Homo sapiens: one gene and its partner. The protein of the gene in region 2 interacts with the protein of the main gene of each other region in a biochemical or structural test. Each region holds a gene or a part of one and is shown on either strand. Other genes may lie near its edges. The genes, in order: NAIP and CASP9.

Region 1 (10,309 bases), on a different chromosome or scaffold from region 2:
ATGGTGGTGTGCTCCTGTCGTACGAGCTGCTTGGGAAGCTGAGGTGGGAGGATCGCTTCAGCCCTTGAGGTTGAGGCTGCAATGGATGGTGATCAAGCCACTGCACTCCAGCCTAGGTGACAGAGCAAGACCCTGTCTCAAGAAAAAAAAAAAGTGAAAAATGTCCATATAAAAACTTGCACACTAATGTGCACAGCGGTATTATTTATAATAGCCAAAAAGCGTAAACAATCCACACATCCATCAACTGGGTTGAGGAATAAAATATGGTATATGTGATAATAAAGTGTGGTATATCCACATAATGAAATATTATTTGACAATGAAAAGGAATATGAAGTACTAAAACAATACAACATGGATGAATTTCGCTTCCTTTTTTTGTTGTTCTTTTTATTTTATTTTTTAAGCACCTCTACCAACATGAACATTTTGCAAAGTGAAAGCAACCAGACACAAAGGACCACGTACTGTATGATTCAATTTAAATGAAATGTCCCCAGTAGGCAAATCTATAGAGACAGAAAGTAACATAGTAGTTGCCTAGGGCTAGGAGGGTAATGGGGGACATGGAAAGCAACTGCTAATGGGCACAGCGTTTCTTTCTGGGGGGATGAAAATGTTCTAAAATTGATTGTGGTGGTGGTTGTGCATGTTTATGAATATGCTGATATTTATTGAACTGTACATTTTATTTACTTTTTTTAGAGACAGAGCCTCACTCTGTTGTCCAGGCTGGAGTATAGTACTGCAATCATAGCTCCCCGCAGCTTCATATTCCTGGGCTCAAGAGATCCTTCCACCTCAGCCTCCCACGTAGTTAGGACTACAGGCACATGCCACCATGCCCCGCTAAGTTTTCGTTTTCTTAAAAAAAAAGTTTTTTTAGAGACAGGGTCTAGCTATGTTGCCCAGGCTGATCTCAACTCCTGGTCTCAAGCAATCCTCCCGCCTTGGCCTCAAGAGCATTGGGGTTATAGGTATGAGTCACCGCACCCTCAGTTGTTCATTTTAAATGGGTGAATTTTATGATGTGTGAATTATATTTCTTTCTCTTTTTTTGAGATGGAGTTTCACTCTTGTCGCCTAGGCTGGAGTGCAGTGGTGCGATCTCGGCTCACTGCAACCTCTGCCTCGTGGGTTCAAGCAATTCTCCTGCCTCAGCCTCCCGAGTAGCTGAGATTATAGGCATGCGCCACCATGCCCAGCTATTTTTTTTGTATTATTAGTAGAGATGGGGTTTCACCATGTTGGCAAGGCTAGTCTTGAACTCCTGGCCTCAGCCCCCCAAAGTGCTGGGATTATAGGTGTAAGCCACCACAGCCAGCCCCAACTAGCTGGGACTACAAGCACGTGCCACCACACCTGACTAATTTCTTTTTTTTTTTTTTTTTGTATTTTTAGTAGAGATGGGGTTTTGCCATGTTGGCCAGGCTGGTCTCAAACTCCTGACCTCAGGTGATCCACCCACCTCGGCCTCCTAAAGTGCTGAGATTACAGGCATGAGCCACTGCTCCCGATGGATTATATTTCAATATAATTCAATTATGCAATATAATTGCATAATTGTTATCATCTCTCCCTGATATATTATCGGAATGGATGTGACATCTGAATGGGGATGCTGTTGAGGAAAGAGATTTCATGAAATGTACAGTGAGTGGCATAATTGTGGCTCACTGTAACCTTGAATTCTTGGGCTCAAGTGATCCTTCTGCCTCTGCTCCCCGAGTAGCTGGGACTACAGGCATGTGCCAACACATCTGGCTAATTTTTAAAATTTTTTGTAGAGACAAGGATCTCACTAAGTTGCCTAAACTGGCCTCAAACTCCTAGCCACAAACAATCCTCCCACCTTGGCCTCCCAAAATGCTGGGATTACAGGTGTGAGCCTCCACACTTGGCCACTTACTTTCTTTTTGATTCCTATTTCAGGAGAAAATCATAATCAATTTGCATTTGTGTGGAAAGGCCACCAATGCACATTTAAGCTGCTCCCACAGGACATTTAAATTATCTTGCTTATTGCTACAACCTAATGAGGAACAACTTAGATTTGATTGCACTGGAAAATACTATATCTTTTTTTTGTTTGTTTGAGATGGAGTCTCACTCTGTCACCCAGGCTGGAGTGCAATGGCGAGATCTTGGCTCACTGCAACCTCTGCCTCCCAGGTTCAACTGATTCTCCCGCCTCAGCCTCCTGAGTAGCTGGGATTACAGGCACCCACCATCATGCCCGGCTAATTTTTTTTATTTTTGTAGAGATGGGGTTTCACCATGTGGGCCAGGCTGGTCTTGAACTCCTGACCTCAGGTGATCTGCCCGCCTCAGCCTCCCAAAGTGCTGGGATTACAGGCATGAGCCACTGCGCCCAGCTAATACTATGTCTTATTATATTGATGATAATAATGTTAATCTCTCAATCCAAATATCCAGCTAAGACTGAATTGGAAGTGCTTGTTAATCATATAACCACCAGGGAGGGATGATTAACTGGCTAAAATGCAAGGCTTAGAATAAATGGTAAAATTCTTAGAAATTACTTGGGCTAGGCTGGGTGTGGTGGCTCACGTCTGTAATCCCGGTGTGGGAGCTGAGATTGCGCCACTGCACTTCAGCCTGGGCGACAAGGACAAGAGTGGGAAGCCAAGGCAGGCGGATCACTTGAGGTCAGGAGTTGGAGACCAAGCTGGCCAACATGGCAAAACCTTGTGTCTACTAAAAATACAGAAATTAGCCGCAATTGGTGGCACGTGCCTGTAATCCCAGCTACTCAGGAGGCTGAGGCAGGAGAATTGCTTGAACCCAGGAGGCGGAGGTTGCAGTGAGCCGAGGCCACGCCACTGCACTCCAGCCTGGGTGACAGAGTGAGACTGTCTAAAAAAAAAAAAAAAGGAGGAATTACTTGGGCTAGAGCCACTAGAAACATTCCCAAACAACCAAAATTAAGTTGCTAGCTACAAGACAGAGGAAAAAGGCACGAAAATTAGTTCAATTTCTTGGTTCCTGGAGAAATCACATACCATGTTTGGGAATTTTATCAACCCTTATTCTCGAAGTTAAGAGGGAATGGGGAGCTAATTTACATGGGGCTTTGAAAAATGAACAAATGGGAGACTTTTTGGGAACTTCGAAGAGATTACTTTGGGGCCATAGCACCTCAGTGTTCAAATGATGTTAGCAATGTCAGCAACCGACTCACGCTGATGGAGCTTCTTACCAAAGCCCGTGACTGCCCCTCAGGGATGGTCATGGGGATTTGACACTAGAAAGTTACCCGAGGCTTCTGGCAGGTATATGTCCTTTGAAAAACAGTCATTGGCCTGTTACTGAGCTTCTTTTTTTTTTTTTTTTTTTTAAGACGGAGTCTTGCTCTGTCACCCAGGCTGGAGTACCGTGGCGCGATCTCGGCTCGCTGCAAGCTCCACCTCCTGGGTTCACGCCATTCTCCTGCCTCAGCCTCCCGAGTAGCTGGGACTACAGGCGCCCGCCACCACGCCCGGCTAATTTTTTTTGTAGTTTTAGTAGAGATGGGGTTTCACCTTGTTAGCCAGGATGTTCTCCATCTCCTGACCTCGTGATCCACCTGCCTCGGCCTCCCAAAGTGCTGGGATTACAGGCGTGAGCCACCGCGCCCGGCCAGAGCACCGAGACTTAAAACATGAACACAAAATAATGATTTTTTAAAACTGAGTAATTCGATCAAATTGTTGCTGCCAGGCTATACAATTTTGTCTATGTTTTTCTTTAATATAAATGTTCAGTATATGCTCATGTTACCACATTGTGTCCATAACTGATATCTGGAAAGCTTCATGAATGGAGGCAGATGGGTGTCTGTCTTGTTGGTTGCTAGATCCCCAATGTCTAGCACTGTACCTGATATATAGTAGGTGCTTAGTAAATATTTGTTGATTAAGTAGATGAATACTGATGTTTCATAATTTTCCAACAATTTATCTTTTGTGTTGAAATTCCAGGCATTCCTTTAATTCCTGGTTTCTTCGGAAACAGTGGGAAATGCTCTTCTAAGAAAAATCTTACTATAAGGGATCAACCTGCTTTATTTTCCTTTTCAGAAAATGGCCACCCAGCAGAAAGCCTCTGACGAGAGGATCTCCCAGTTTGATCACAATTTGCTGCCAGAGCTGTCTGCTCTTCTGGGCCTAGATGCAGTTCAGTTGGCAAAGGAACTAGAAGAAGAGGAGCAGAAGGAGCGAGCAAAAATGCAGAAAGGCTACAACTCTCAAATGCGCAGTGAAGCAAAAAGGTTAAAGACTTTTGTGACTTATGAGCCGTACAGCTCATGGATACCACAGGAGATGGCGGCCGCTGGGTTTTACTTCACTGGGGTAAAATCTGGGATTCAGTGCTTCTGCTGTAGCCTAATCCTCTTTGGTGCCGGCCTCACGAGACTCCCCATAGAAGACCACAAGAGGTTTCATCCAGATTGTGGGTTCCTTTTGAACAAGGATGTTGGTAACATTGCCAAGTACGACATAAGGGTGAAGAATCTGAAGAGCAGGCTGAGAGGAGGTAAAATGAGGTACCAAGAAGAGGAGGCTAGACTTGCGTCCTTCAGGAACTGGCCATTTTATGTCCAAGGGATATCCCCTTGTGTGCTCTCAGAGGCTGGCTTTGTCTTTACAGGTACCTTGAAATTATTCTCTGAAGTGTTTCTCTGGCGTTTTAAGTTTAGGTTTTATTTTTCAATTGCTTTTGCAATATTTTGCTAAACTTTCTTCACTGGTTAAATGTGTTATATTAGGTATAAGGTCTAGTTTATTAAAATTCAACATCAATATTTTTATTTTTGCTTCATTTTCTATTTAGTACAGCCTGTGTTAATTTGTCAAATATATATAAAATAAGAAAGTTACGTCTCCTTAAACTTGGACCTTAGAAAATACTGGCTGTATTCTTAAGGTCCTGAAAAGATTAAATAACTCATGCGGTCATCCTGATCCCAGTCTCCTCACCCACCCTCCTTCTACTGCTCTTACATGATCTTTCTTTGATTCTTCTCATTGCTGCAGTATTGGAGGGTTTTGTTTGTTTGTCCTAGCCCCGCCATAGGGGTTATGATATATAAATCAGAGTTCTAACAATAACAACGATCATTTACTGAGTACTGTACCTACTTTATGCTAGGCATAGAGTGAGTACTAATTCTTATCCAATGAATTTACCCCTTTCTCTCCCATTTCACAGCTGAGTTCATGGAGGCTCAGAGACTTTAAGAAACATGCCTATGTTTCTACCGAAATGTCATGGCAAGGCTAAAACGTAGGTTTTCTAATTGCACGTTACTTCAGCTGGTCCTGGTGTTAGTCGGCTTCCCTATCACTTTGACCCTGAGAACTCAAAGAGCAACATACCAGCTCTGGGGGGCAGCTGGGGCAGGATATTGAGTTACACAGCTTAGGGTTCTGTACCTAGAGCACGGCTGTGGTGGAGGGGCCCATTTTGGGTGGTGGGATTGAGGATGGAGACTCAGGCCAATGAGATCGGGAGTGCACAGCCACGCTGGAGCTTGTCTTGCTCCTGAACAAAACAATCAACTCTGTGTACATACCCCCTGGTGCCACTGCCAGGCAATCTAAATATTTTCCTTCATATATAGGTAAACAGGACACGGTACAGTGTTTTTCCTGTGGTGGATGTTTAGGAAATTGGGAAGAAGGAGATGATCCTTGGAAGGAACATGCCAAATGGTTCCCCAAGTAAGTAGATAATTTTTGCTTAAATGTTTCTTTCTTTTTTTTTTGAGACAGTCTTGCTCTGCCACCCAGGCTGGAGTATAGTGGCATGACTTCAGCTCGGTGCAAATTCTCCCTCCCTGGTTCAGGTGATTCTCCTGCCTCAGCCTTCTGAGTAGCTGGGATTATAGGTGTGCACCACCAAGATGGGCTAATGTTTGTATTTTTAGCAGAGATGGGGTTTTGCCATGTTGCCCAGGCTGGTCTTGAGCTCCTGAGCTCAGGCAGTCCACCCACCTAGGCCTCCCGAAGTGCTAGGATTACAGGCGTGAGCCACTGTGCCTGGCTAAATTTTTCAGTTCTTTAAAAGACAAAATGAAAGACAAAAGAGCCACCTTTCTGGAGTAGCACCTTCAGTTTTGATCTTTCCCTATTCAAAATTGGACCACTCCAGGATTTATTCAAGCAGGAAAGGCCTAATTACATTGTGAAAAGTTTGAATTATAGAATTTTAAACAGTTTTTAAGTATTTCATTATCCCAAATTCTAAGATAGGTTTTGCCCAGTAGAAGTTTCATGATCTGCCTTAATTAATAAATAAGGCTGGAAGTGGTGGCCCACACCTGTAACCCCAGCACTTTGGGAGGCCAAGGCAGGAGGATTGCTTGAAATCAGGAGTTTGAGACCAGCCTGGCATGTAGAGACCCTGTTTCTACAAAAATAAAAAAAATTGGCCAGGCGCGGTGGCTCACACCTGTAATCCCAGCACTTTGGGAGGCTGAGGCCGGTGGATCCGAGGTCAGGAAATCAAGACCATCCTGGCTAACACGGTGAAACCATGTCTCTACTAAAAATACAAAAAATTAGCCGGGAACGGTGGCGGGTGCCTGTAGTCCCAGCTACTTGGGAGGCTGAGGCAGAAGAATGGTGTGAACCCGGGAGGCAGAGCTTGCAGTGAGCCGAGATAGCGCCACTGCACTCCGGCCTGGGCGACAGAGTGAGACTCCGTCTCAAAAAAAAAAAGTTAGCCAGGCATGGTGGCGTGTACCTGCAGTCCTAGCTACTTGCGAGGCTGAGGCAGGAAGATTGCTAGAGCCCAGGTAGTCAAGGCTGCATTGAGCCGTGATCAAGCCACTGTGCTCCAGCCTGGGTGACAGAGTGAGACCCTGTCTCTAAAACTAATTAAATAAGTAATAATAATTTCCATAGGGGTGGTGTAAAATGGTGTATGCTGGAAGGTAAAAAATATTTAAACATTATTACAAATGGTTTCATGTACTGCTAAATATATACCAAATGAAAACACTGTATTTTTAAACCTCAGAAAGAGTTTTTATTACTGCAGTGGTCTTTAGTTCCTGGCTTAGAAAAGGAAGTACATTTTAATTATTTTTAATGCTATATTTACTAGTATTTTCTACATGACTTTCTTTGTTTCTACCAAGTACAGATTCATTCCTTTAACAAGTTTTTAAACTTTCACTGTGTAAAATTTCATACAAAGATAGAATAGTGTAATAAATACTTGTCAACACATAGCCAAATCATATTTCATCCATCTCCTACCCACCTTTTTTCCTGGAAATAATAACAATAACTATATTTTTATTTTATTTTATTTGAGACAGAGTCTCGCCCTGTTGCCCAGTGGTACGATCTTGGCTCACTGCAACCTCCACCTCTCAGGTACAAGTGATTCTTGTGCCTCAGCCTCCGAGTAACTGAGATTACAGGCATGCACCACCACACCTGGCTAATTTTTGTAATTTTAGTAGAGATGCGGTTTCATCATGTTGCCCAGGCTGGTCTGAAATTCCTGGCCTCAAGTGATCCACCCACCTTGGATTCCCAAAGTGCTAGGATTACAAGCATGAGCCACCTGTGCCTGACCAAGATTTGTTGTTTTCTTTCTTTCTTTTCTTTTTTTTTTTTTTTTGAGAGTGAGTTTTGCTCTGTTGCCCAGACTGGAGCCCAGACTGGAGTTTAGTGGTGCAATCTCAGCTCACTGCAACCTCCACCTCTCAGACTCAAGCAATCCTCCCACCTCAGCGTCCTGAGTAGCTGGGACCACAGGTGCCTACCACCATGCCCAGCTAATTTTCATATCTTTTATAGCGACAAGGTTTCACTTTGTTGCCCAGGCTGGTCTGGAACTCCTGGTTCTACAAACTCCTGGGCTCAAGTGATCCTCCCACCTCAGCCTCCCAAAGTGCTGGGATTACAGGCATGAGCCACTGTGCTCAGCCCCTTAAGATTTTTAATTCGTAGATTTCCTCTTTATCCATCTCTTTTTTCTTGTCACTTATTTGTTAAAGAAGCCATGTAATCTGTCCTGTAAAATTCCCTCTACTCTAGATTTGGCAGAATGTGTTCCTCTGGCATAGTCTAACATGTTCCTCTACCTTCTGCATTTCCAGGAACCTGACACTTGGATCTAGCAGTTTGGTCAGGCTCAGATTCTATTTTCTTTCTTTCTTTCTTTTTTTTTTTTTTTTTTGTGACAGTCTCACTCTGTTGCCCAGGCTTGAGTGCAGCGGTGCAATCTTGGCTCACTGCAACCTCTGCCTCCTGGGTTCAAGCGATTCTCCTGCCTCACCCCACCCAGGTCTGGGATTATAGGTGCGCACTGCCACACCTGACTAGTTTTTGTATTTTTAGTAGAGACGGGGTTTCTCCATATTTGCGAGGCTGGTCTCGAACTCCTGACTTCAGGCAGTCCACCTGCCTCGGCCTCCCAAAGTGCTGGGATTATAGGCATGAGCCACCGTGCCCAGCCTCAGATTCTATTTTCTTTAACAAATATTTGTCACACACCTACTACATGCAAAGTTGTTGGTTGGATACTAAATTAACTACAAAACTGGACACAGTTATTTACATTTATAAGTCATCTTGCACATGGACAGCCATGCCCACAAAAGTGAATGGAGGCCCGGCATGGTGGCTCATGCCTGTAATCCCAGCACTTTGGGAGGCTAAGGTAGGCGGATCATTTGATGTCAGTAGTTCAAGACCAGCCTGGCTAACATGGTAAAACCCTGTCTCTATTAAAAATACAAAAATTGGCCAGGCGTGGTGGCAGGCACCTGTAACCCCAGCTACTTGGGAGGCTGAGGCAGGAGAATTGCTTGAGCCCGGGAGGCAGAGGTTGCAGTGAGCTGAGATCGCACCACTGCACTCCAGCCTGGTCAACACAGCGAGACTCCATCTCAAAAAAAAAAAAAAAAAAAAAAAAGGCTGGGCACAGTGGCTCACACCTGTGATCCCAGCACTTTGGGAGGCCAAGGCGGGCAAATCACTTGAGGCCAGGAGTTCATTCAAGTGATGAACTCTCCTCTCCCCTCTTCCCTCTCTCCTCTCTCCTCTCCTATCTCCCCTCTTCCCTGGCCAACATGGTGAAACCCCATCTCTACTAAAAATACAAAAATGAGCCGAGCGTGGTGGTGCGTGCCTATGGTTCCAGCTACTCGGGAGGCTGAGGCAAGAAATTGCTTGAACCTGGGAGGCGGAGGTTGCAGTGAGCCAAGATCACTCCACTGCACAGCAGCCTGGGCAACAGAGTGAGACTCCATCTCAAAAGAAAAAAAAAGTGAATGGATATCTTTGATATGTTTTGATACGTTGTGTGGGAAAGCAATATGCACAATAAGTGCAGTGTGAGACTTTGAAAATGTTTAAAACCACTCAAACTATATATGGAGTTGCTTGAAAATATATAGAAAACCTTATGAAAATATGTAAACCAAACTGTAGATACTTCTGGATCTGGATTTGTCAGGGGGTGAAGTAGTGATGGATTTTCACATTTATTTTGTTCATTGCTGTCTTGTTTAAATTTTTGGAAACAAGTATATATTACTTTCATAGTTGAAAAGAAAGTGAGGAGATTAGGAGGGAGGAAGTAAACAAGGGAGGAGAGGAGAAAGGCAGGAAGAGGAGAGAGAGAAAGTTAGACAAGTAGATGAGATAGTTATAGGGACGAATGAAGCTAGAATTGTGAAATCATTTGACAGTCACTCTGGCTCCCTGACGAATCAAAACAGCCACCCAGGCAGTCCTTGTCCATGCTGACAGTGCACCATATATGCATATGTAACAGGGAACAGCAGCCCCGGCTGGAGCACAAGCCGCTGCTCGTGGGCACCTGTCTCAGCTCTAGCCTCAGCTCAGGCTTCACTTAGCCTCAGGGTCACTGTGTTTAGTGTCGCTGGGTTATACACTGGACAAGTACCAGTGGCACCACTCACACATGATCACATTATCATGTGACTAGCACCTACTAGAGCCGCACATCCTGTCTGGAGGGGCCTTCATATGCCTTCTCTAACATAGTCAGAGGGTAAGGTAATAAGCACAGGGAGGGGAGACAGCAGTCCAGCAACCACTCCTAGAGAGGAAGGAGTTCAGGCCAGCAAACAAGGGCAGGGGGTAGTGCAGAGGCTTAGGAGATAGAGCCAGGCTTGAATCTGCTGCTACCTGACTACCAGACCCTAGGCAGGTGACTGACCTTGTCTGAATCTCATATGTAAAATGCAGTGTCAACAACAACAAAAAAATTAGAGACAGATATCCCCAAATATGTCAAATTTATTCAGGAATAAGAAAAG
Region 2 (10,309 bases):
CCGTGCAGACCACAGGGGGACTCCAGGCCCCAGCTTATAACTGTGATCTGTCCAACTCCTCAACTTAAAAGATGAGGAAACTGAGGCCCAGTAAGGGGTAAGGGCTTAATCACAGTGACAAATACGTAAGGGGCCAAGCCCCCAGTGGGCCTGGTGTCCTGAGTCCCACCAGCAGCAAGGGGCCTGGGGCAGTGCCTCACAGGACAGAGACAGGAGCTGAGACAACATGTGTGCTGTACCCGCCTCTGAACAAACTCTGGGTGCAGGAGCTTCGTGAGCAGACCTGGTCTCTGCCCTCCCTCTCCCAGAGGGCTTCTCCCAGGAACACCGACCTGCCCAGGACGGTGCAGCCAACTCCTCAGAGGACCACATGGCTCCCAAGAAAACAACAGGAGGTGGGCAGGGCCCCACAGCCCTTTTCCACAAAGCCAAGGGTGTTTTGGACACAAGAAGGGACATGGCCCCTGCACAGCCTCTTGGCACGGCCAGTACCCAATGCCTGCCCAGGGAACAGTGGGAGGCTTCCTACCTGACAGCCGTGAGAGAGAATGACCACCACGCAGCAGTCCAGAGCACCGTGGTCCTGCTGCGCCAGCTCCAGCAAAGCCAGCACCATTTTCTACAAGAGAGGGCTGCAGGTGAGCCAGAAGCACGGATAGGTCTAGATGCAGACTGGACCGTTCCTAACAATAAAAGGGCCCAGCCTGGCCAGGCATGGTGGTTCACGCCTGTAATCCCAGCACTTTGGGAGGCCAAGGCAGGTGGATCATTTGAGGTCACGAGTTCGAGACCAGCCTGGCCAACATGGTGAAACCCCGTCTCTACTAAAAATACAAAAAAAAAAATTTAGCCAGGCATGGTGGCACACACCTGTAATCCCAGCTACTCAGGAGGCTGAGGCAGGAGAATTGCTTGAACCTGGGAGGTGGAGGTTGCAGTGAGCCGAGATCGCGCCACTGTACTCCAGCCTGGATGACAGAGTGGGACTCTGTGCCCCCGCCCCCCCCAAAAAATAAAACAACAAAGGGCCCAACCCAAACGCCTGGGCAGAGCACTTTCTCGGTTTCCCAGGGCCAGTACCGAAGTGCTGACAGTCCCAGCAGTCGTAATAGCCACCATTTTTGGGGAGAAGGTGCTACGCTTGGGCACTGTTCATCTAACCCCCAAAACAACCCAAGGAGGCAGGTACTATTCCTGCTTTCCAGACAAGGAAACTGAGGCACAGGAGGTCACACAGCAGGTGGCCGAGAGAGCCAGTCCTCAAACCCGGACTTCTGCGTCTGAACTTGAACCTGTAGCCGCTGGGCCGTCCTACCTCCCATGGTCCTCCAGATGTAAGGGCTCGCCTGGGGAGTCAGCTGGCTTTTGGAGTCCCTCAAAAGATACTTCCCCACCCACTGCCCCCCACCCTGTCTCCCTCCACAGATAGTGAGTGTACCTTGGCAGTCAGGTCGCCCTTCACCTCCACCATGAAATGCAGCGAGGAGAAGCGACGCCGCAACTTCTCACAGTCGATGTTGGAGCCAGTGCGGGTGCGGAGCCCGGACTCACGGCAGAAGTTCACATTGTTGATAATGAGGCAGTGGCCACAGGGCTCCATGCTCAGGATGTAAGCCTGCCAGCACAGGGACCCACGTAAACCCGGGCTCTCCCCACGCTCCCTAGAGGACAGTCTGGAGAGGCGGGAAGAAAACGGGGTCTGCCCTCTCGCACAAGGAGTAGCAGGGTCTCCACCCGGCATTCCAGGGCAAAAGAGAAGCAACTGCAGGGAAGACTAGCACTAGAAGGTGACCCCCCCATCTTGGTATTAAGGGAAGGGAGCTGGTAACCTGGAAATCCAACAGCCATGAGCATTCATCCCAAAGGACCTCACGGGTCACCTAGGCCGGGGTGTACCTGAGAACTCTGTCAGCAGAACCATGCCCAGGCCACCTGGAGGCACCCAAGGCTGCCCTCTCCCCAGGCTCAGTCCCCTTGTAATTCTCTCAAGGCAGCCTGTTCTTTTGTTGATGGTACTTATCACTATTTCTATTTATATACTCATTTGTCTAACTTCTCTCTCGCCTAACTGACTGATGGCTCCTTCCCAGGTGGCCCCAGCACAGAGCATGGGAGCCACACAATAAATACTTGTGAATGAGAGAGTGGCGACTTGGTCTGGATCCCGATGACTGCCCCTCATCAGGTCTGCCCTGCTTCTGCTGTCAGCTTTGCAGATGAGGAAGCGCAGAGATGAACAATCTGCCCCAGCAGGCGCTGGGCCGGAGTCAGGGAGGCTGAGACCAGACCCCCACTGCACTGCCTAGGGTTGGGTTCCCTGGGCTCCTGACACACCTGCAGGGAAGGACCTGAGGGGTGGGGAGGGAAGGGCCCAGAGCCCGAGCTACTGGCCCAAATTTCATGGAGACTCACCAAATCTGCATTTCCCCTCAAACTCTCAAGAGCACCTGAAGAGGCAGAGAAAGAGAGAAACATGAATGTTGGGTTACAGCAGAGGAGGGGCAAGGGGCTCTGTGAGGACAGCCCCCCAAGAACGGAGCAGCGAGAACTCAGACCCTCAGACTCTGCTGGTGGGAGAGCCACCTTGGAGATCTGTTTAGAGGTTTCTAACAAAGTTAAACACACACCTACCCTCTGACAGCAAGTCCACCCTTAGGTATATATCAAAGAGCAAGGAGTGCAAACGGGCACAAAAGACTTGGCCAAAATGTTCCCTGAGGCCTTATTCATCACGCCCCAACATGGAAACAACCAATCTAACAACAGTTTGGTAGATATACAAATTGTGATACAGCCACACAAGAGAACATTACACAGCCTAAAAAGGAATGAGCTACTGATGATACAGGAGACAGAAAGAAATTATTTAGGCAGATAGTGAGGGTAAAACAGTCCTCGGCAGAATTTCCCTTTTAACAAAATCCCCAAATCGTTTCTTTTCTTTTTTTTCTTTTTTCTTTTTCTTTTTTGAGACGGAGTTTCACTCTTGTCGCCCAGGCAGGAGTGCAATGGCACTATCTTGGCTCACTGCAAACTCTACCTCCCAGATTCAAGCAATTCTCCTGTCTCAGCCTCCCAAGTAGCTGGAATTACAGGCACCCACCACCATGCCCGGCTAATTTTTTTGTATTTTTAGTAGAGACGGGGTTTCACCATGTTGGCCAGGCTAGTCTCAAACTCTTGACCTCAGTTGATCCACCCACCTCAGCCTCCCAAAGTGTTGAGATTACAGGTGTGAGCCACTGCACCCAGCCTCAAATCATTTCTTTTCTAAAAAAGAGCAGCCTGAAAAATCAAGCTGCAGACATAGATAAGCAAGCTGGAAGCTCACAGGAGTGAATGCCAGCAGCTGTGCCAATAGAAAAGGGCTACCAGGGGGCCAGATATACTCAGCAAAGAGGCTCTATCTTCCCTTTTGTTACCACAAGACAGTAAAGAAGTAGGCAACATGGCACTGGCCAGGTAGAGAACCCATCTGCATAACACAAGATTGGAGTGGGGCTGGCCAGCTTTTCGCACCACATGCAAATGGCACACCTAGCCCTAACCAGTTTTATGCATCCTATGCAAATGAAACACCTGGTCTGACCAATCTTTGTGCCCTTTGTAAATCAGACACCATCTCCTCAGGCTCATCTTTAAAACCCCTTGCATTTCATTGCAGAAACAGCAACCCATTTCACTGGAACCCCTCTCTCTGCAGCAGACAGAGCTCTTCTCTTTCTTTCACCTATTATACTTCCACTCTGAACCTCACTGTATGTCCGTGTCCTAGTCTTCCGTGGCTGTGAAGACAATGAATCTTGGGTATTTACCCCAGACGAGTGACACCGCTTCACTGATACACGCAATGCGGGATAACCTTGAAAATGTGCTGCGTAAGGCCAGGTGCGGTGGCTCACGCCTATAATCCTGGCACTTTGGGAGGCAGATCACCTGAGGTCAGGAGTTCGAGACTAGCCTGGCCAACGTGGTGAAACCCCATCTGTACTAAAAATACAAAAAAAAAAAAAAAAAAAGAAAAATTAGCCAGGCGAGGGGGCAGGCGCCTGTAATCCCAGCTACTCGGGAGGCTGAGGCAGGAGAATCGCTTGAACCTGGGAGGCAGAGGTTGCAGTGAGTCGAGATCACGTCATTGCACTCCAGCCTGGGCAACAAGAGCAAAACTCCATCTCAAAAAAAAAAAAAAGAAAGAAAACGTGCTGCGTGAAAAAAGCCAGACACCAGAGAGTATAGAAATAGTGTGGTCTCATTGAGAAGAAATTCCAGAGCAGAAAGAGGTGAGAGAAGCTCAGGAGAGCGGATGCTCACTGTCTGCGAGTCCACAGGGGCCCAGCACACAGCAGGTCCTCAGGAAATACTTGCAGAATGAATAAATGAATAAAGATGATTATTTTCCATCAACATCAAAAGAGTTTTCATTTCCGTTAGCAAGAAGTTGACTGGCCACCAGCCTAAAAGGTTATGAGATGTTTTTTCTTTTTTTTTGAGACAGAGTCTCGCTCTGTCACCCAGGCTGGAGTGCAGTGGCGCGATCTTGCCTCGCTGCAACTTCTGCCTCCTGGGTTCAAGCGATTCTCCTGCCTCAGCCTCCCAAGTAGCTGGGAGTACAGGCACCTGCATCACGCTTGGCTAATTTTTGTATTTTTAGTAGAGATGGGGTTTCACCATGTTAGCCAGGCTGGTCTCGAACTCCTGACCTCAGGTGATCCACCTGCCTCACCCTCCCAAAGTGCTGGGATTACAGGCATGAGCCACCACGCCCGGCCTACATTTTTTCTTTTTTAAACAAGGAGAATACAGTGGCCACCTCCAAGTTGCAGTGGAGCCCATACTCCTGTTCCAATAACAGTGCCATTCCTTGCTTAGAACAGGTCTGAACTATTCTGCCAGCTTAAAGGCCACAGCAGAAAAGCACTCACATCCCATTCACATCCCATTTTTAAAGTTAGAAATGGTTTTACCTACCCTGAAAATTCCTATTCATCCACAGACTTCATTCTGAGAACATTTGCTCATTTCCAAAATTCCGCTGTACCCCAAAAATATAACTACTATCCACTACTGAGGAATTCACTCATTCCCCAAATTAGAAATATCTATTGATAAAGCAAAATGACTGCTCTCAAGAGGCCAAGGGCTACAGGTGCCCATGGAGGGAGCAAATCAACCAAGGGGTGCCCAAAGAAAGAGGGAGAGGAGACACTCCAGGCAGAGGCCCCGGCATGAGCAAAGGCAGGGAGGATGCAGGAGCATGGCATGTTCAGGGCCCCTCAAGTTGGGTGACATGGTCAGATACAAGGTGCATGAGACCAGTTTCTCCTGAAATGGCCACTCCCATGGGGACAATAAACACACATGGCTAAGTGTGTGCAAAAGAATCAGTCTTCCAGCCTGAGTCACTGGGCATGTGCCCAGGTCTCCAACACAAACAGAAGAGGGCAAGCACATCCTCTCTGCCACCCAAGGGAAAGAAGGGGTTTCGTCCCTCCGAACCTATGCTGGAATCACCCCAGAAGTGGCAGCAGAAGAGTTCCCACAAGGGAGTGCCCCAAACTGTCCTAAGATGGGGCCAGTTGGGATTCCAAAGAAAGAAGCAATAAATGCCAGGGCGATCTGGCCAAAGCAATCCTCGAGGTGCGGAGGCGAGAAAAAAAAACAGGTGTCTACCTAGGTTTGGTCCAAAGTGAAGAGGTCAGGGTAAGGAGTTTATATGAGGGTTTAAGGAATTTGGCTCAGGGCCAAGGCTGGTTTCTTTCAGTTGTTTTGGGTGATAACCTAGATACCTTTTTGTTTTGTTTTGTTTTTGGAGACGGAGTCTCACTCTCTTGTCCAGGCTGGAGTGCAGTGGTACAATCTCAACTCATTGCAAACTTTGCCTGCTGGGCTCAAGTGACCCTCCCTCCTAAGCCATCCAAGTAGCTAGGACTACACCACCACACCTAATTTTTTTTTTTTTTTCAGACAGAGTCCCGCTCTGTCGCCCAGGCTGGAGTACAATGGCACAATCTTGGCTCACTGCAACCTCTGTCTCCCAGGTTCAAACAATTCTCCTGCCTCAGCCTCCCAAGTAGCTGGGATTACAAGCACACACCACCACGCCCAGCTAATTTTTGCATTTTTAGTAGAGACAGGGTTTCATCATGTTGGCCAGGCTGGTCTCAAACTACTGGCCTCAAGTGATCCATCCGTCTTGGCCTCCCCAAGTGCTGGGATCACAGGCGTGAGCCACCATGCCCAGCCTACCTAGATACCTTTATCAATGCCTGAGAATGTTTAAGGCCCAGGTTTGGGCTCAGGTCTGCTGGGAAAAACCTGTAGCTGGCTGGGTCACAGGGTGGTCAAAGCACTCTGTGATTTTCAATCAGGACACAGAAAGAAACAGGGGAACTGGGGGACCCTACAGAAGGGAAGATGCCCTAGGACTGGCCCTCCCCAGCCCTTGGCAATTTAGAAATCACAGAAGGAAGCAGAGCTGACCAACAAGACCCAAGGCTCACTCAATAGGAGGCCCCATGTGAAGTCCCTCCACACACTGCCTCATTTACTCCTCAGAGCAGGCCCTTCAGCACAGAAGTACTGGCACACATCCCCATTTGCCAGAGGGGAATTGGGGGCTCAGAGACCCTGAGTTGTAATGGGAGGTGAGCACAGCCACCAGCCCCAGAGCAAAGAGACCAAGAAGCCAGGTAGGGCTGAAAAGCCAACTTCTACTTTCAAGGAAGTTCCAACCCAGGCAAGGCATGAGCAGAGAAAGCCACTGATGGTTGAGTTCACAGGTCAACTTGACTAGATCACAGGGTACCCAAATATTTGGTTAAATATAACAGTATTTCTCAGGGTGCCTGTGAGAGTGTTTTGGGGATGAGAATGGGATTTGAATAGGTAGACAGAGTAAAGCAGATGGCCCTCCCCAGGATGGTGGGCCGCGTCCAATCCGTCAAGGGCCTGAATAGAACGAAACAGTGGAGAATGGGAGAATTTGATCTCTCTCTGTCTCACTACTTGAGCTGGGACATCAGTCTTCTCCTGCCTTTGGAATGGGACTTCTACCATTGGTGCTCCTGGATCTCAGGCCTTCAGACTCAGACTGGAACTACACCACCAGCTTTCCTGGTCTCCAACTTGCAGATGGCAGATCTTGGAACTTCTCAGCGTCCATAATTGCATGAGCCTGTTCCTTGTAATAAATATGTTTTTAGATAAAGATATATATATATACACACACAAAAAAAATGCATATATCTTTCTATATATATCCGTGTGTGTATGTGTGTATATGTATATATATAAAACAGAGGCCCAGAGACTCAACTACTTGTCCACTGTGACACAGCTGCTAAGTGTTGGAGTTGGGCTTTGAACCAAGTACCTCGGACTCACTCCATCACTGCCTCATAAAGGACAAATGGCTTGGCCAGGTGCAGTGGCTCACGCCTGTAATCCCACCACTTTGGGAGGCTGAGGCGGACAGATCACGAGGTCAGGAGATCAAGACCATACTGGTTAACATGGTGAAACCCTGTCTCTACTAAAAAAAATACAAAAAAATTAGCTGGGCATGGTGGCAGGTGCCTGTAGTCCCAGATACTCGGGAGGCTGAGGCGAGAGAATGGCGTGAACCCAGGAGGCAGAGCTTGCAGTGTGCGGAGATCGCGCCACTGCACTCCAGCCTGGGCAACAGAACAAGACTCCGTCTCAAAAAAAAAAAAAAAAACGAACGGCTCATTCTCTTTCTTGTCTGTGTATATGTGCCATTAATCATTAGCTCATGCAAATGTTTACTAAGTACCTGCTGAGTTCTAGGTGTTGGGGATGCAGCATTGAACAAAAGATGCTGTTTTATACACATACACACACCCCCTATTGGTTCTCTTTCTCTGGAGAATCATGAGAACACAGCCACCAACAGTTCTCCCAGTCCTCCCGGGCAAGAGGCCCTGGCTGGAACAAGCAGTTACACACAAGGCATCACGTCTGAAACTAAGAAAGTTCCTTCCATTCTGAAGGAAAAGGCATTTTCCTTTGAATATACAAAGACAAAGCCACTCTCTCTGGTGGGTCCCCTAATGATGCACCTCTAAAGCACCGTGTTCAGCTTCATAGCACTACCCACAGCCGTGAATAAAGACCAAATTAGGCAAGCATGAACTGAGTACCTGCCCCTCTCCACCTGAAGGCAAGGACTGGGCATCCTTGTTCGAAGCTGCATCCCCAACACCTAGAACCCAACAGGTACTTAGTAAACATTTGTGTGAGCTAATGAGTAATGGCACAAATATAGGGACAAGAAAGAGAATGAGCCATTTGTTCTTCATGAGACAGTGATGGAGTGAGTCTGAGGTACTTGGGTTCAAATCCCAACTCCAACACTTAGCACCTGTGTCACAATGGGCAAGGAGCTCAGAGTCTCTGGGCTTCTGATTTCCCCATCTGTATTACAGGATAATAGGAGCAACTACCAACCTCATAGGATTGTGATGACACCTCAAACAATTAATACATGTGAGGCACATAGAACAATACCCGACACACTTGACAACTCAATAAAACTGATGTGTCCACATTATTATTCATTGACACTCATGCTCAATGAATATGTATGAGTGCAGTGTGTGTACTCAGCCCCACCACACTAACCCTTTGGGCCAGATTCTTCTTTATTGTGCAGAGCTACTCTGTACACTGTTGGGTTTTGGCAGCATCTCTGTCTACCCACTAGATGCCAGTAGCACCCACCCACCCTCAGCTATAACAACCAGATTTGTCTCTAGACATTGTCAAATGTCCCTTGGAGGTCGGGGAAAAATCGTCCCCAGTGTGAAACACTGACCTACAGCATCCTTTCCTGTATTCACTTATTAAAGGCTCTGCTGCTGGCCCTATTCTTGCTCAGCCAGACCTTCCCATACATATGAATACACAGCTCTTCCTTTGTGGGTCACCATGAAACCTACCTTGGGAAACATTCCCATGCAGTACTCTGGAGTCTAAGGCCCAGCATCTAAAAAGGACATCTCTCAGCAGCTCATGGAAAATGGGACAGTCGCTCTATTAAGCCAGAAGACCTAGGCCCAAGTCCTAGCTCTGTACTGGAACTCACTTTGTGACTGTTGCTCTCAGAACCCAGTTTCCTCCCCTGTAAGTAGCATATAATGACAGACGGGCTTGCCATGTCTACCACGGCACAGGGTGGTTTTGATGACCTGAAAAAACACTGTGTATACTACAAAGTGATATTCACATTATTTAAAGTGATCTTGGGCCAGCCGTGCTGGCTCATACCTATAATCCCAGCACTTTGGGAGGCTGAGGCGGGTTTATCACTTGAGGTCAGGAGTTCAAGACCAGCCTGGCCAACATGGGGAAACCTTGTCTCTATCAAAAAATACAAAAACTAGCCAGGCATGGTGGTGCACCTGTAGTCCCAGCTACTTGGGAGGCTGAGGTGAGAGAATTGTTTGAACCTGGGAGGCAGAGGTTGCAGTGAGCCGAAAACACACCACCGCACTCCACCCTGGGTGACAGAGTAAGACCCTATCTCAAAAAATAATAATAATAAAGTAAAAAAAATTAAGTGATCTTACTATTGCTGTTGTTATTTACCCTTCAGAATTAAGCTCCTACTAGGAATAAATATTCACAAGAAACAGGAAATAAAACACCTTCCAAAAAAACAGGAAGTTTCAAATTCTGACTGTTGGTCCTAAATGACTCACGTTGACATTTCCCAGAACCAAATAACAACAGATGAGCTTTGTATTCTGCCTGCCTCCTTTACAGGATGGTAATGCACATGGCCAATTCCAGAACCAGTCTTCTTCCTTACACTTCAAGCAAATGCAGCTTCCTACCCTTATCATGTTTGTCTGTTTCTCTGCTTTAGTGGATTGCCCAAAAATCACCATTATGCAGCAAGTACTCAATAATGTTCACCATTACTATTATGAATATTAACTCTGATACCATGCAATGGTCCACCAGGCACCCATGAAACAGGAAGTGCTAGAGCTCCACACGCTGCCATGGGAACAAAGCCCCAACTGAAAACAACCCACATGTCCATCAATAGGAAAATGGTTAAATAAATTGTGGATTATTCAGAACAGGAACTGCTGCCATCTAGAAATTAAAAAGAATGAACTACTGATATGCACAACAATATGAATGAGTTTTGGTGAATTTTTGTTGAAAGAAAACAGCACTTTTTACCCATCACACAGGAAAAAATGTCAATATTCACTGTTGGCAAGAATGTGGGAAAGTGGTCACCTTCACTCGCAGTTGGTGAGATTATAAAATGACACAA

What was found.
Region 1: the proteins of CASP9 (region 2) and NAIP interact in far-western blotting, tested with the Homo sapiens proteins (one study listed by BioGRID).

The regions. Positions count from the first base shown.
Region 1 is NC_000005.10:71,006,692-71,017,000, reverse strand, and holds part of NAIP (baculoviral IAP repeat-containing protein 1), read left to right. Parts: intron 1-4,082; 5' UTR 4,083-4,085; coding exon 4,086-4,653; intron 4,654-5,626; coding exon 5,627-5,726; intron 5,727-10,309. UniProt on the Homo sapiens protein: Anti-apoptotic protein which acts by inhibiting the activities of CASP3, CASP7 and CASP9. Can inhibit the autocleavage of pro-CASP9 and cleavage of pro-CASP3 by CASP9.
Region 2 is NC_000001.11:15,505,461-15,515,769, forward strand, and holds part of CASP9 (caspase-9 isoform alpha precursor), read right to left. Parts: intron 2,448-10,309; coding exon 2,413-2,447; intron 1,674-2,412; exon of another isoform or gene 1,616-1,673; coding exon 1,439-1,615; intron 620-1,438; coding exon 530-619; intron 1-529. UniProt on the Homo sapiens protein: Involved in the activation cascade of caspases responsible for apoptosis execution. Binding of caspase-9 to Apaf-1 leads to activation of the protease which then cleaves and activates effector caspases caspase-3 (CASP3) or caspase-7 (CASP7).